Linked DNA regions of Homo sapiens. The protein of the gene in region 1 interacts with the protein of each later gene in a pairwise test. Each region holds a gene or a part of one and is shown in the gene's direction. Other genes may lie near its edges.

Region 1 (4,548 bases):
CCTCTGACAAGTGACTTGTAAACCCAGGCGAACCGTGGCTGGAGGACCGAGTTGCGAGATTCGGAGAGGCTGGAAGAGGGTCTGGGCTGGGGTGGTGCGAGGAGTGAGCAGTGGGCTTGGGAGAAGGAGGCGGCGCTCGGTGAGCCCAGGTGGGCTCATTTCTAACCCTGGAAATCCGGAATTGGCCCCGCGGGCCTGGAGCCAGACCCCTCAGGGAGGCGGTCGGGAAAGCTCGCGGGCGCTCCAAGGCGGTGGGCGTGGGGGTGGTGTCCGGTGGCCCCGGGCGGCTCCGGCCACAGCTAATGTCCCGGTGCTGTGTGCATGGGGTGGAAGCGTCACGTGGAGTAATTCGGTCGCCGCTTGGAGGCGGTGGCGCTGGCGTGGGTCCCAGGCTTGGGCATCGCCTTGCGCCGCGCGCCAGGGTCGTGGGTCGGGGGCTCCCTGAGGCCAGAGGCTACAGGGGCGCGGGGAAGACAGCTGGGGTCGCCGCGCCAGGATGTGGGGCTGCTGGCAGGTGACACCCGCCCGTGGAGCCGAAATCAACAGGCGGTCGCCCTTCACTCTCACCCGCAGGCGCTGGCCAGACGCGGGTAGCTGAGTCCCGCGCGGAAGGGCGGCCGCGGCGGCGCGGGTGGCCCGGGAGGCCGGCGAGCTAGGCCTGTTTCTTCAGGGCGCAGAAAGTCCCGGGCCAAGGAGCCGGAGGGAGATCTCAGAGCCTGCGGCGTGCGTCCGGGCAGCTGGAATCCCACCTTCTCCGTCTTTTTTTTCCTCCCCCCTCCCACCCTCCACCTTCCCTTCTTTTGCTCTCCTCTCCTTTTCTCCTTCCGCATTCTCTCCTGGGAGATAGTGTCATTGCAGCCCCTGGCCTTGGAATAAACCGTCCGTTTAAGCGAAACCACCGAATCCACGCCACTGGGCCGTGGGGCTTGAGGTCTCCACGCCGGCCTGTGGACCCCGGCCCGGCCCGGCCCCTCGGGGAATATCTGGACTCGGTCTTTTCCCCCCAGTCGGTTCCCTGCCCCAGGAAAGCCCTCTCTGCGGGGTCCAGCTTCCGCCCGCGCCCTCTGCCCACTTCCCCGCCGCGGCCCATCCGGGTCCCGTGGGTACCGCGCCCCTCAGCTGCCCCGGCGACAAGCGGCGGGAGACGCTGCCCGAGGCGCCGCGCACAGCTCCCGAGGCCATGACCGCGCTGTTTGCTCTCCCTGCAGGCTCTTTTCCACAATGGCCCCCCTGACCAGCGCGTCGACCGCGGCCGCGCTCCTGAGACAGCCCACACCCGCCGTGGAGGGCGCAGTGGCATCGGGCGCCCTGGCCGACCCGGCCACGGCGGCCGCAGACAGACGCGCCTCTAGCATAGCCGCGCTGAGGCTCAAGGCCAAGGAGCACGCGGCGCAGCTCACGCAGCTCAACATCCTGCCGGGCACCAGCACGGGCAAGGAGGTGTGCTAAAGGCTGCCCTCCACACCCGCGCCCCGCGCGCGCCCCGAAAGGTCACCTCACTCAGCACCACTCAAGACCAAATGGAAACAGAGGACCAGCACACTCCCGAGACGGCACTGAGAGAGCGCAGCCGCCTTCACAGCAGTCTGGATGCGGGCATGGCAGCCCTCGGCGCTCCGGGACGTGGCACCTCCTCGGCTGGCTGTCCACCCGCCCCTGCCCCTGCCCCTGCTACTGCCAACCTCGCTCCAACTCCAACATCCACTCTCTCTTGTTCTTACTTTCCTGAAAATATCGGGGAGGTTTTCTCCCCCAGACGCCTGATATTGAAGTAAAAAATTTAAAAAGCCCAACCTCTTCCTCCTGACACCCCACTTAGCCTTTCTTTTCTTTCTTTCTTTCTTTCTTTTTTTTTTTTAAATAGCATTTTGGCGCTCGAAGTTGATCTCCCCAGCGAGGGCCCCAGCGTGAAGCCAGGGCCCGGGAAGCAAATGCGAGCCTGTAAGATAGCTAACAGTGCACTTAAAGGAAAGGGGCGTCTTGTTCTTGTTCTCTTCTTTATCATACACCAACCAAGGTTTTTATATCAAACCAAAGGGAAATAATACTCTGCTAGAATATGGACTGTTGAAGTCACCAAACTGTGATTATTGATTCTGTACATACCATTGTTATTAAAAAAAAAAAAAAAAGAACAGAGCTTTGTATATTTGAAATGTTATAACGCAATTGCACTCAGCGTGGTATGGTAAAAGTTTGTCCTCCCGTAGATTCTTACTGTGTTGTAGATACGGTAGGGTTCCTAGACAAATATTTATGTACTCAAGCCCTTTATTTAACTTATTAACTGTAGAGGCTTCCGAAACCTTCAAGATAAAGGCAATGGTACAGTACTTTTGTGTAATGTGTAATTGTTACCACTTTTCCTTGCTATCTAGTGGAGAAGTGTCACGCTCAAAATAAAAAAATTATATGTTTAACAAAACGAAGTGTGAATGCTCCATACAGGCGCTGAGGGGACAGTAGAAGCCCCCACCCCCACCCCCCGGGAGTCAAGGGTGGGCTCCAGCGTCCAGGCATCTCCTGGGATTATCTGCACACGCGTTTTCCTGGCAGAGGCCCCTGGTTTGAATCCGATCCTCAAAGGGAACCGGATTTCCTACGAAGGTTAAGGACGCCGCCGCGGTACTTTCCACGCGCACCTGGGCTCTCCCGGGTCGTGTCACAGCGGGAGCTGGGGGTCCCGGGCCACGGAGGTGGGGTGGGTTCCAGGATGGGTGGGTGGATGGTGGGCGTTGTTGACGGTGGAGTCAGAAATTTGAAGCAAGCGGGAGTCTTGGCTCGGAAGGCGAAGGGAGCTGTTGGAAAGTGCCACGTAGCCAGGAAGTGAAGTGCGCAGTCCGAGATGACAGGTAATGGCGAGAGCGAGAAGCCCAGGCGCTCCCTTCCGAGGGGGCGGGCTCCACGGCATGTTCGCAGGGAGGAGGGAGTGTGTGTGTGTATTGTGTTGTGTGTGCGTGTGTGTGTGAGAGAGAGAGAGAGGGAGGGAGAGAGAGAGAAACATGCGGGAGCAGTAGTGATGGAAAGGCAGCGAGGGGTATCCAAATGGCAGATCTTAACTCGACAAATGTCATTACATCACTTATCCAGGCATTGGTAAATGTATACATTTAAAAAAATCTAAACAACTCAGATTTCGTGAGGAGACCCAAACAGATTTGCAATCCTTAACCACCTCGGCGCACGCCTCCCTCCTCGCGGCGGGGACCGCAGCTTCTCCCTCCCCCGGGCCCTGCCCGCGCCCCTCCGGGTGACCGCTTGGTGGAAGCCCGCCCGCGGGGGCTGGGTCTCGCCGACGCTCCCAGGGTGATGGGAAAGGGAAGAGAAGCTTAATTAGTTTCAATTTGCTGTAATTAGCGCGCCGGACCTTTGGGGAGAGGGGCAGGCGGGAGGGGTGCGGGGGTGCCGCGGCGTGACTACCGCGATTGCGGAGCTGGGGCCGGCAGCCCCGCCACGCCGCCGCCGCCGCCGGCCAGTCGGTCGCCGCGGGGGGCGCGGGTGCCTCTCTGGGCTGGGGCCGTCGGGCTCCGCGCGCGCCCTGGAGGAGGGGGGCCGGGTCCCCTCGCGGCCCAGGGCGCAAGTGTGCGCGGCCGAGGGGAGGGTGCAGGGTTGGGCAGAGGTCAGCGGCCTGCCAGGCGCTGTGCCCACCTGGGTGTGGGCAGCCCGCCCGGCAGCTTCGGCGCTGGAGCCCGCACGTCCCGGGCTCGCCTCCTATCCTGCACCCCCCTTCACCCCCAACTTCAATCCCCTCCTCTCCAACCCCGGGTCCAGACGCCCGGAGACCCCGCCCGCCCGAAACGTTGGAGAGCTCACGGAACCGGCTCGCCGGCTGGTGGCCGCTTCTGGCACTTGGGTCGTCGGGTGGATCACCGCCACCCAACGCTAGCCCTGGACTCACGGGGGCGGCACTCGCAAGAAGGGCCCCGGCCTGGGGTATGGGGAGCGGCCGCCAACTACCATTCCTACCACACACTCCGTTCCCGGGTTTAGTAGGCCCGGTGGGAACTTTCTAGGGCCTTACTGGAGGTCTGAGAGTCTAAAACCCTCAGACTCCACATCCACAGGCTCTCCCTGAGTGAAAGCCGCTTTCCTGGGGTGGTCAGGGCCGCTGGAGAGTTTGGGGAGGAGACGGGACTGCTGGAGAAGACTGAGGGAAAGGAGTTGGGTGTGTGTGTGTGTGTGTGTGTCTGTGTGTGTGTGTGTGTGTTGTGGTCGATATCAATTTTGCGTCGATTTTGCCTTTTTGTTTAGTAGGGCTTCTTTTCCCCCCTCTAGGCTGCTAGTTGGATGGTATACGAGAAACAGTACCATTCTTCCTGTTAATGAACTCTTTTTTAAGTCATTTTTTCTCATTTGACCCTTCCATGGAACAGAAGCAAATTGCGTGAAATTACCTCCAAGGATTACATTTATTACTGGCCAATGAGAACCCCTCGCCTTGTTTTACAAACTCTTAATCCTATGTCATTCTGATGCTGCAAACAAGCCCAGTCCTGGGCCTCCTATTCTTTCAACTTTCCCCAGCTGGAGGGACCTCATTCTGCACTT
Region 2 (7,605 bases), about 29 Mb from region 1:
TTCAGAGGACACCTGTTTTTCCTCATGTAAGTTTCCCCCCAATCCCCCCTTTTCCACTCATGTGTTTTATAGTTCACTGTAGCCCTCATCATTTTTTTTTTTTACCTCAATAGCTATAACATATATGTAGAGAAATGAATTGGAAAAGATCCTGCTGAGGTTCCCTCTAGAGAGGTAAGCAGGCATTGAAATGCCCTGTCACGGGGAAAGTTCAGCCTGGCTGTTTGAATGTTTATAATGGGAATGCATTTACATTACAATGGGATGGAACTGAATCTGTGTTATTAAAAATAAATGTTTACAACTGTTAAATGGAGGTGGGATGGGGGAGGTAGGCTTCCAGGGCAGCCTGGTGCTGTGGCAGCCAGGTCCCATCATGGGCTGCATCCTCTGAGACTGGACCAGTCCACACATTTCCAGGGCAGCAGCCAGCTGCCTCCCATCCTTAGCAGTGGCAAGACTTGCTTTGTCAGCAAATCTGACTGCCTCTGGTTCAGACCCCTGGCAGCTTTGCCTTTCCTAATATCCTTTGTCCACTCCCCACCTCTCAAGGACACTGGGGAGGAATTTTAGGAGTCGGGGTAGGAACCACTGTACCTAGGTCCAATGCTACCTCTTGTGAAGCCTTTCCTCACACACCCACTGAATGTGTTTGAATTAACTGTGACTGCCTCTTTGTTCCCACACCACACAGGTTGCTCAAACCTCTATGTAGCACTTAGGGTTTGACCTTTTCCAGCCTCCTTGTTTTGTTAATTTATTAGATCGTCTATTCCCTAAGGGTACACACAGGGTCTCTAATTCAGGCTTGGAGACCCTGACCCCCACCTGTAGCCCACCCAGTCCTCTTGCCCCCATCTTAGGGCTTTAGCACTTTTTTTTTTTTTTTTGAGATGGAGTCTTGCTCTGTCGCCCAGGCTGGAGTGCAGTGGCACAATCTCGGCTCACCGCAAGCTCTGCCTCCCGGGTTCACGCGATTCTCCTGCCTCAGCCTCCTGAGTAGCTGGGACTACAGGCACGTGCCACCACACCCAGCTAATTTTTTGTATTTTTAGTAGAGATGGGGTTTCACCATGTTGGCCAGGATGGTCTGGATCTCTTGACCTCGTGATCCACCCGCCTCGGCCTCCCAAAGTGCTGAGATTACAGGCGTGAGCCACCACACCCGGCCAACACTTTTGATTCCTTTTGCCTTTGTCCCTAGCTAGCTCTTTTTGTTATTCAGGTCTCAGCTCCTGTCACCTTCTCTGAGAACCCTTCCTTGACTACCTTATCTAAAATAGACTGCTTTCCTTTCAAATCATTCTCTATCTCATAACTGGTCTTACTTTCCTGATAGCACTCACCTCAATTGGAAATTCTCTGATTTGCCTCACTTTTTATCCGTCTCCCTTGCTGGAAATGAGTCACAGGAGGGCGGGGACTTGTCTGTTTTGTTTACCCCTAAATCCCCAGTGCCTAACAGTAGGTGTTCAAGAAAATATGTGAATGAAATTCACATATTAATGAAATTTTATTTGATCATTGACTGTTTCCGCCAGTAGACTGTCAGCTGCATGCAGGCCAGGGCCTTATCTGGGGTACCTCAACATCCTCAGCACCTAGCACAGTGCATGATGCATAGTAGATTAATAAAGAACTGTTGGGTGAGGGAATTAATGTTCCACACACACCTGAACTCAACATAGTCCAAATTAAATTTAGTCTCCTCCCCACCAAATCTGTTTTCTCTTCTGCGTAGCCCAGTTCATTCAGTGGCACCGTCATCTATGCTGACACTCAACCCAGAAGTGAACTCACACCCCTTTCACTCACTCATCTGCTATTATCAGTTTCCAAACACTGCCTAGTCAACCTCCAAAATATCCAAATTATCTCATCTTTTTCTACCCTTTCCCAAACTATCCTGGACCAATTTTTTCCCCCCAACACTAGTGAAACAGCCTCATTCCTCCTGACTCCTTGTGAAGCTAAGACATCTTAAACTGCAGGACCTGTCACTTTCCATAGGGTCACATGGTGATGTGTTTTATAAAGTTCACAAAATACATTTAAACAACAATTGGTTCAAAGTGCTGTCCCTTTCCACTGAGGGCCTGGCCATACTTTCCCTTGCATTAGGTGGTGTTGGAGCTGCCTGACATTTTTGAGATCCACCTAAGGGGAAGTTGATTTGGGGGATATATTTAGGTTGGGTTTCATGGGATATTTGTTATTTAAAAATTCATTTTATTTTTATTTTGTAGAGACAGGGTTTCACTATGTTGCCCAGCCTGGTCTTGAACTCCTGGGCTCAAGTGATCCTCCCATCCTGACCTCCCAAAGTGCTGGGATTACAGACATGCAATCTGCACCCGGCCCCATGGTACATTTACATGTGCCTTGTATCACTTCTCTTCGTAATTATTACCCAGGTGAAGGAATTGCTTGTAGAAATACTCTTACTGCCTACCTTTGAACCTAATTTTGTATTCATAAGTCATTTTTTTTTTTTTTGAGATGGAGTCTCGCTCTGTCACCCAGGCTGGACTGCAATGACACAGTCTCGGATCACTGCAACCTCCGCCTCCCGTGTTCAAGCGATTCTCCTGCCTCAGCCTCCTGTGTACGTGGGACTGCAGGCATGTGCCACCACACACGGCTAATATTTTTATTTTTAGTAGATATGGCGTTTCACCATGTTGGCCAGGCTGGTCTCGAACTCCTGAACTTGTGATCCGCCCGCCTCGGCCTCCCAAAGTGCTAGGATTACAGACATGAGCCACCGCGCCCGGCTATTTTTTTCTTAAAGACGTCTCACCCTTCCTCCCCCAAACCATATAAGCTTCAGGTCCCATTAAACCTGGACCTTTCAGTGCAGTGGCTCAGGCCTGTAATCCCAGCGCTTTTAGAGGATCTGAAACCAGGAGTTTGAGACCAGCCTGAGCAATATAGCGAGGCCTGGGCTCTATAAAAAATAAAAAATAACCGAGTGTGGTGGTGTGCGCCTATAGTCTCAGTTACTCATGAGGCTCTGGCGGAAGGACCGCTTGAGTCCAGGAGTTCTAGGGTGCAGTGAGCTATGACCGCCCAGCCTGAGTTGACAGAGTGAGACCTTGTCTCTAAAACAACAAACATAAAAAAAAAAAAAAACCCTAAACCATCCTCTGGGTAAGTCACAAATATGAGACTAAGCTACCCCTGCTCAAAAACCTGTGTTTTCTTTTTGCTAACTGCATACAATCTAAACTCTTTTGCATTTCGCAATCTTTCATGTTGTGACCCTTTACTGTTTGACCTCCTACCTATCTCTCTTCTGTTTTCCTTGTTCCAACAATATTCAACTTCTAGTAAATATTTTTCTATGTGCCTCCATGCATTTGTACACGTTGATCCTTTTGAGTACAATGTTCTCGCTTGTTTATTTAAGTGAACTTAATCGTCCATGTCCCCCTGCCGTCTTTCTTACAGCAGCTGCAAGCAGCTTGTAAGGCTCTTTTGTAGCTTCATGTTGCATTTTGCAAAGGTCATTTTGCAGGTGGTATTTGTGTGCTTACTGTGCCTTCTATTCCAATTGTTTACTCGCAACTTTGTTTCCTGCACTGGCAGATGCCCTCCCACTCCAGAGGCCCTGTTTTCACCATTGCATCCCCAGGGCCTACCCCACCATCACTGGTTAGTAAATTGTGTGCACGCACACATTTCCTTTTTAAAGCAATGGGACCCTTTAAGAAAATGAAATAGTAAGATAACTCCTAGAGAATTTTCTAGAATGTTTGAGAAAACCTAGGCCATCTTGAAGCATATGTACGAAGCTCCACTAACTCAGCAAAGCTCCACTAACTCAGCCTTTCCTCTCATCCCCCCTCCTCTCCCCTCCCCTCAGGCTATAGTCAGAAAATTGTGGGACAGGTGCAAACAAATCCTTGAACTGTATTTGAACTGAAGTGAAACAGTAGGGTCAAAGAAGAGTTCAGAGGGAGTTGTGGAGTTGGCAGCAGCTTTACAGAGGAACTACACTGAGGGCCTGGGGACAGAACGCGGGTAGCACAGGGCACAAGGTTCAACGTCCCTGCTCCGGGACTCAAGTCACTTGGCTTCTCGAAGCCCCTGCCTTCATTTGGTGATAATCACAGAGCTTCCTTCACAGGGGGAAGAACCAACAACGCAGAGACCGTGGGAAAGAGCCCAGCCTATCGAAGGTGCTCAATGAACAGGAGCCGCGGTGAGTACTCCGCCTCTACCCCGGCTGAAGCCCGCCCCCGCCGCCACCTATTAATTTTGTAGTTTGGAGTCACCGAGTTCACCTCCTCTCATAGGAGGAGAAGGCTGGGGAGGAGGAGTGTGCGAGTCGGGGTAGCTGAACTCCCTGTTTGCCCGGAGGAGGGGGAAGGCTAGGAAGTTTCGGGCCCCACTCAAAATGGAGCCAAACGTCTGCCTCGCCTAAGATGGCGGCTTCTCCGCCTCTGGGCTCAAGGTCTTCAGCGGCGATTGGGCACCTTAAAGAGACGAGCGGGTCCAAAGGTGGCTGAGAACCGCCCTCCTTTCTCAAGGTGGCGCCCCGCCCCCCCGATGACGTCACCCGGGAGCCGGCGGCTCGCGGTTCCCCGCCTCCGCCGCGCTCACCTCGCGAGTCCAGCCCTCATAAGATGGCGGTCGCCTTGGTTGTCTGGGTAGCGCCGCCACTCTCAACATGGTAGCTGTTTATCCCGTATTTCTCCTCCCCTCTCCGCCTCAACTTCCTCATTGTTTTGAATAAACTTTATTGACTACTCCGAATTGCCTACCACCGCCACTGGGCTTCTCCCAGCGACTTTTCGGGCCGTGTGCCTCGGACGTGGCGGCCGGTTCATCTCTTTCCCCGTTGGTTTGCTCGCGAGTATCTCCTGCCGGCCCAGCGACGACGCCACTTGCCCGTTCGCCGGGCGGCCGCCAGACTAGGCCCAAGCCGCGGTCTCCAGTAGGCCCGAACGGCCGGGCCGAGGGGAATGTTGTGGAGGAGGCTGCTCTGAAGCACCGTTGAGCGGCTGGCGCCGCGCGACCCAGCGGGGGGCTCGAGGGGAAGGCGAGCGAGGTTCCCGGCGGTACGGGGACTATCCCAGAATTCGACGCGCGTCGCCGTAGGGGCCGGAACTACCGGACGAGCCTCCGCTGAGGCGCTTCGCAGTCCCGGAGCTAGCCCGGCTGCCGGCGTGTCGCTGGGGCTGAGCTCCGCGGGCGTGGAGTCCTTGCAGCCCAAAGCATGAGGAGGTCCCTGTAGGATTCTGGACTGAAGACGTTCTTGTCAGGTTTGGGGCGTGAGGAGGTTCCTGTCAGTTGGGGAAGCGTTAAGATTCCTGTAAGTTTTGGGGGCTGCGAGGCTATTACTGTCAGTTTTAGGATATACTGTGAGGTACCTGAACATTTGGGGAGACTAGGGAGCTCTCATCAGTTTGAGGGGGGGCTGCAAGGAAACGCTGCCAGTTTCCGAGCGATGCAAAAGAATCCTTGCTTAGTTTCGGGAGTGTGAGGAAATTCTAGTCAGTTTGAGGGGTTTTGAATAGATCCTTTTGAGTTTCAGGGATGCAGCCAGAACCCTGTCATCTTTAAAGTACAGAACGAGCTGGTCAGTTTAGAGATTTATATTTATTTCAGTTTTGGGGGTGATGAGACTCCTGACTGGTCGGGGAAGGAATGATATTGAGAGTGATGGAAAGGATTATTTAAACTCTCCGAACACGACCCCAGAACTGTGATTTGAGTTGGGCGCCTAGTCTTGTCTGTCTTGTTCGTGAAGGCTTTGAGTAACCTGAAGAGACTTTCAGGGATCCCTTATCTCTCTCTGGTTGGCCCTATTTCAGGTGGTGAGAGGAGGGTCTTGTCTTGAGATACCCCCAGCCTCATTTTTGACGCTGTGGTTTGCGTCATAATAGAGGGAGCCCTGTGAAACAGGGGTCAGCTAGGGGAGGGTTCAGTGAGAGATGAAAGAAGCTTCCCGAAAAGGCTTCAGGTATTTTCTTGAAACCCGGAAAGAAGTTATCACTGACAACGGGGCCGAAGAAGGTGGGGGGTGGGGAGTGGAGAGTGTGGGGGCGGTGGGAAGCCTGGAAGGTTGAGCTCCGTTCTTTACGTGTGAAAGAAATTCTAAGGGCCGGGTGGACTTTCTCTGGTTGCCCCCTACAGCCGCACCAGCTGTGTTGCATCCCGGCGGCGGTAACTCTATTGGAGAACTGAGGGTTGGTGCAAGGGGGTGGGGGGCGGGGGCTGATTCACTCTGTAAAAAGTGTTATTTGTGCCTAGCTATCGTCCAGAGAGGACGCGTGCTGCCGCCTCCCGCCCCTCTTGACACGACGAACCTGGCCGGCCGCAGAACGCTCCAGGGCCGAGCGAAGATGGCCTCGGTGCCGGTGTATTGCCTCTGCCGGCTGCCTTACGATGTGACCCGCTTCATGATCGAGTGTGACATGTGCCAGGACTGGTTTCATGGCAGGTAAGGAGGGCAGGCCAGGCTACACAGGGTGCGGTGGCCAGGTGTGTTCACTTGCTCTCTCTTCCTTTCTCAGCTCTGTTTTTAGATTCCGGCTCAGGACCCCCTCTCCCAGACTCAGGTTCTGCCATCTCTCCTTGCAGAACAGGACCTAGCTGACATTAGCCTCTGGTTTCTCCTTTTCCTGTGTTTTCCCCTATGTATTTCTTCTTTGCACTTTTCTTTTGAGTGTTTTTTTAGATTTATAAGACCCCCCCCCCCTTTTCTTTCCTGTTACAAAGAATCATTTTTATATTCTTCTCTATTTTATTTTTTATTTTGTTTTATTTTTTTCGAGACGGAGTTTCGCTCGTTGCCCAGGCTGGAGTGCAATGGCGCGATCTCGGCTCACAGCAACCTCTGCCTCCCAGGTTCAAGCGATTTTCCTGCCCCAGCCTCCAAGTAGCTGAGATTACAGGCATGCACCACCACACCCAGCTGATTTTGTATTTTTAGTAGAGACGGTGTTTTTCCATGTTGATCAGGCTGGTCTGGAACTCCCGACCTCTGGAGATCTGCCTGCCTCGGCCTCCCAAAGTGCTGGGATTACAGGCGTGAGCCACCGTGCCCGGTCATCATTTTTATAGTCTGACAATTATGTTCTGCCTCACACACTGGCTTTTGGGAAAACAGTGTTGCTTATTTGAGGTAGTTGAGTCCATAAACAGGGATTTAAGTTGTGGCTTTGTACTTAGTTTCAGAGTGACCATGCACAAGTTGCTTTGCTTTTCTGAGCCTCATTGTCTTCAGCTATAAAATGTTATCAAATACATCCTTTCTGACTTTGCAAAGCAGTTTGGATGTACTCCATAAATGGAGGCAGAAATGGAAGAGTATTTTATTTCTACAGCATTTATCTGCAGCACCATCCAACTAAATTGAATTAAGCAGAATAGATGCTGGGTAAAACAGGAGTAAAACCACTGATGAATTTCCTTCAGTTAACCGTGTGTGCACATAAGCACCTGTCACCCAGAATTCCGGAGAGGTTAGTGTGTACGATAAAACTAATATTTCATTAATGGGATTTAAATCTCAGCTATGGAAAGACAACCTTGAGGGGGCTTTGTACACTGGAGCACAACAAAACAGTGTATGGCACCCTCCTCCTGTTGCTTGTT

The links. Proteins that work in one complex are often made in the same cells at the same time.
Region 2: the proteins of ARX (region 1) and PHF8 interact in binary tests that used the Homo sapiens proteins (3 or more experiments, as listed by UniProt).

Annotation. Positions count from the first base shown.
Region 1 is NC_000023.11:25,001,571-25,006,118, reverse strand, and holds the end of ARX (homeobox protein ARX), read left to right. Parts: intron 1-1,208; coding exon 1,209-1,449; 3' UTR 1,450-2,425; downstream 2,426-4,548. UniProt on the Homo sapiens protein: Transcription factor. Binds to specific sequence motif 5'-TAATTA-3' in regulatory elements of target genes, such as histone demethylase KDM5C. Positively modulates transcription of KDM5C.
Region 2 is NC_000023.11:54,041,474-54,049,078, reverse strand, and holds the start of PHF8 (histone lysine demethylase PHF8), read left to right. Parts: upstream 1-4,605; 5' UTR 4,606-5,317; exon of another isoform or gene 5,318-5,968; intron 5,969-6,258; coding exon of another isoform or gene 6,259-6,350; coding exon 6,351-6,448; intron 6,449-7,605. UniProt on the Homo sapiens protein: Histone lysine demethylase with selectivity for the di- and monomethyl states that plays a key role cell cycle progression, rDNA transcription and brain development.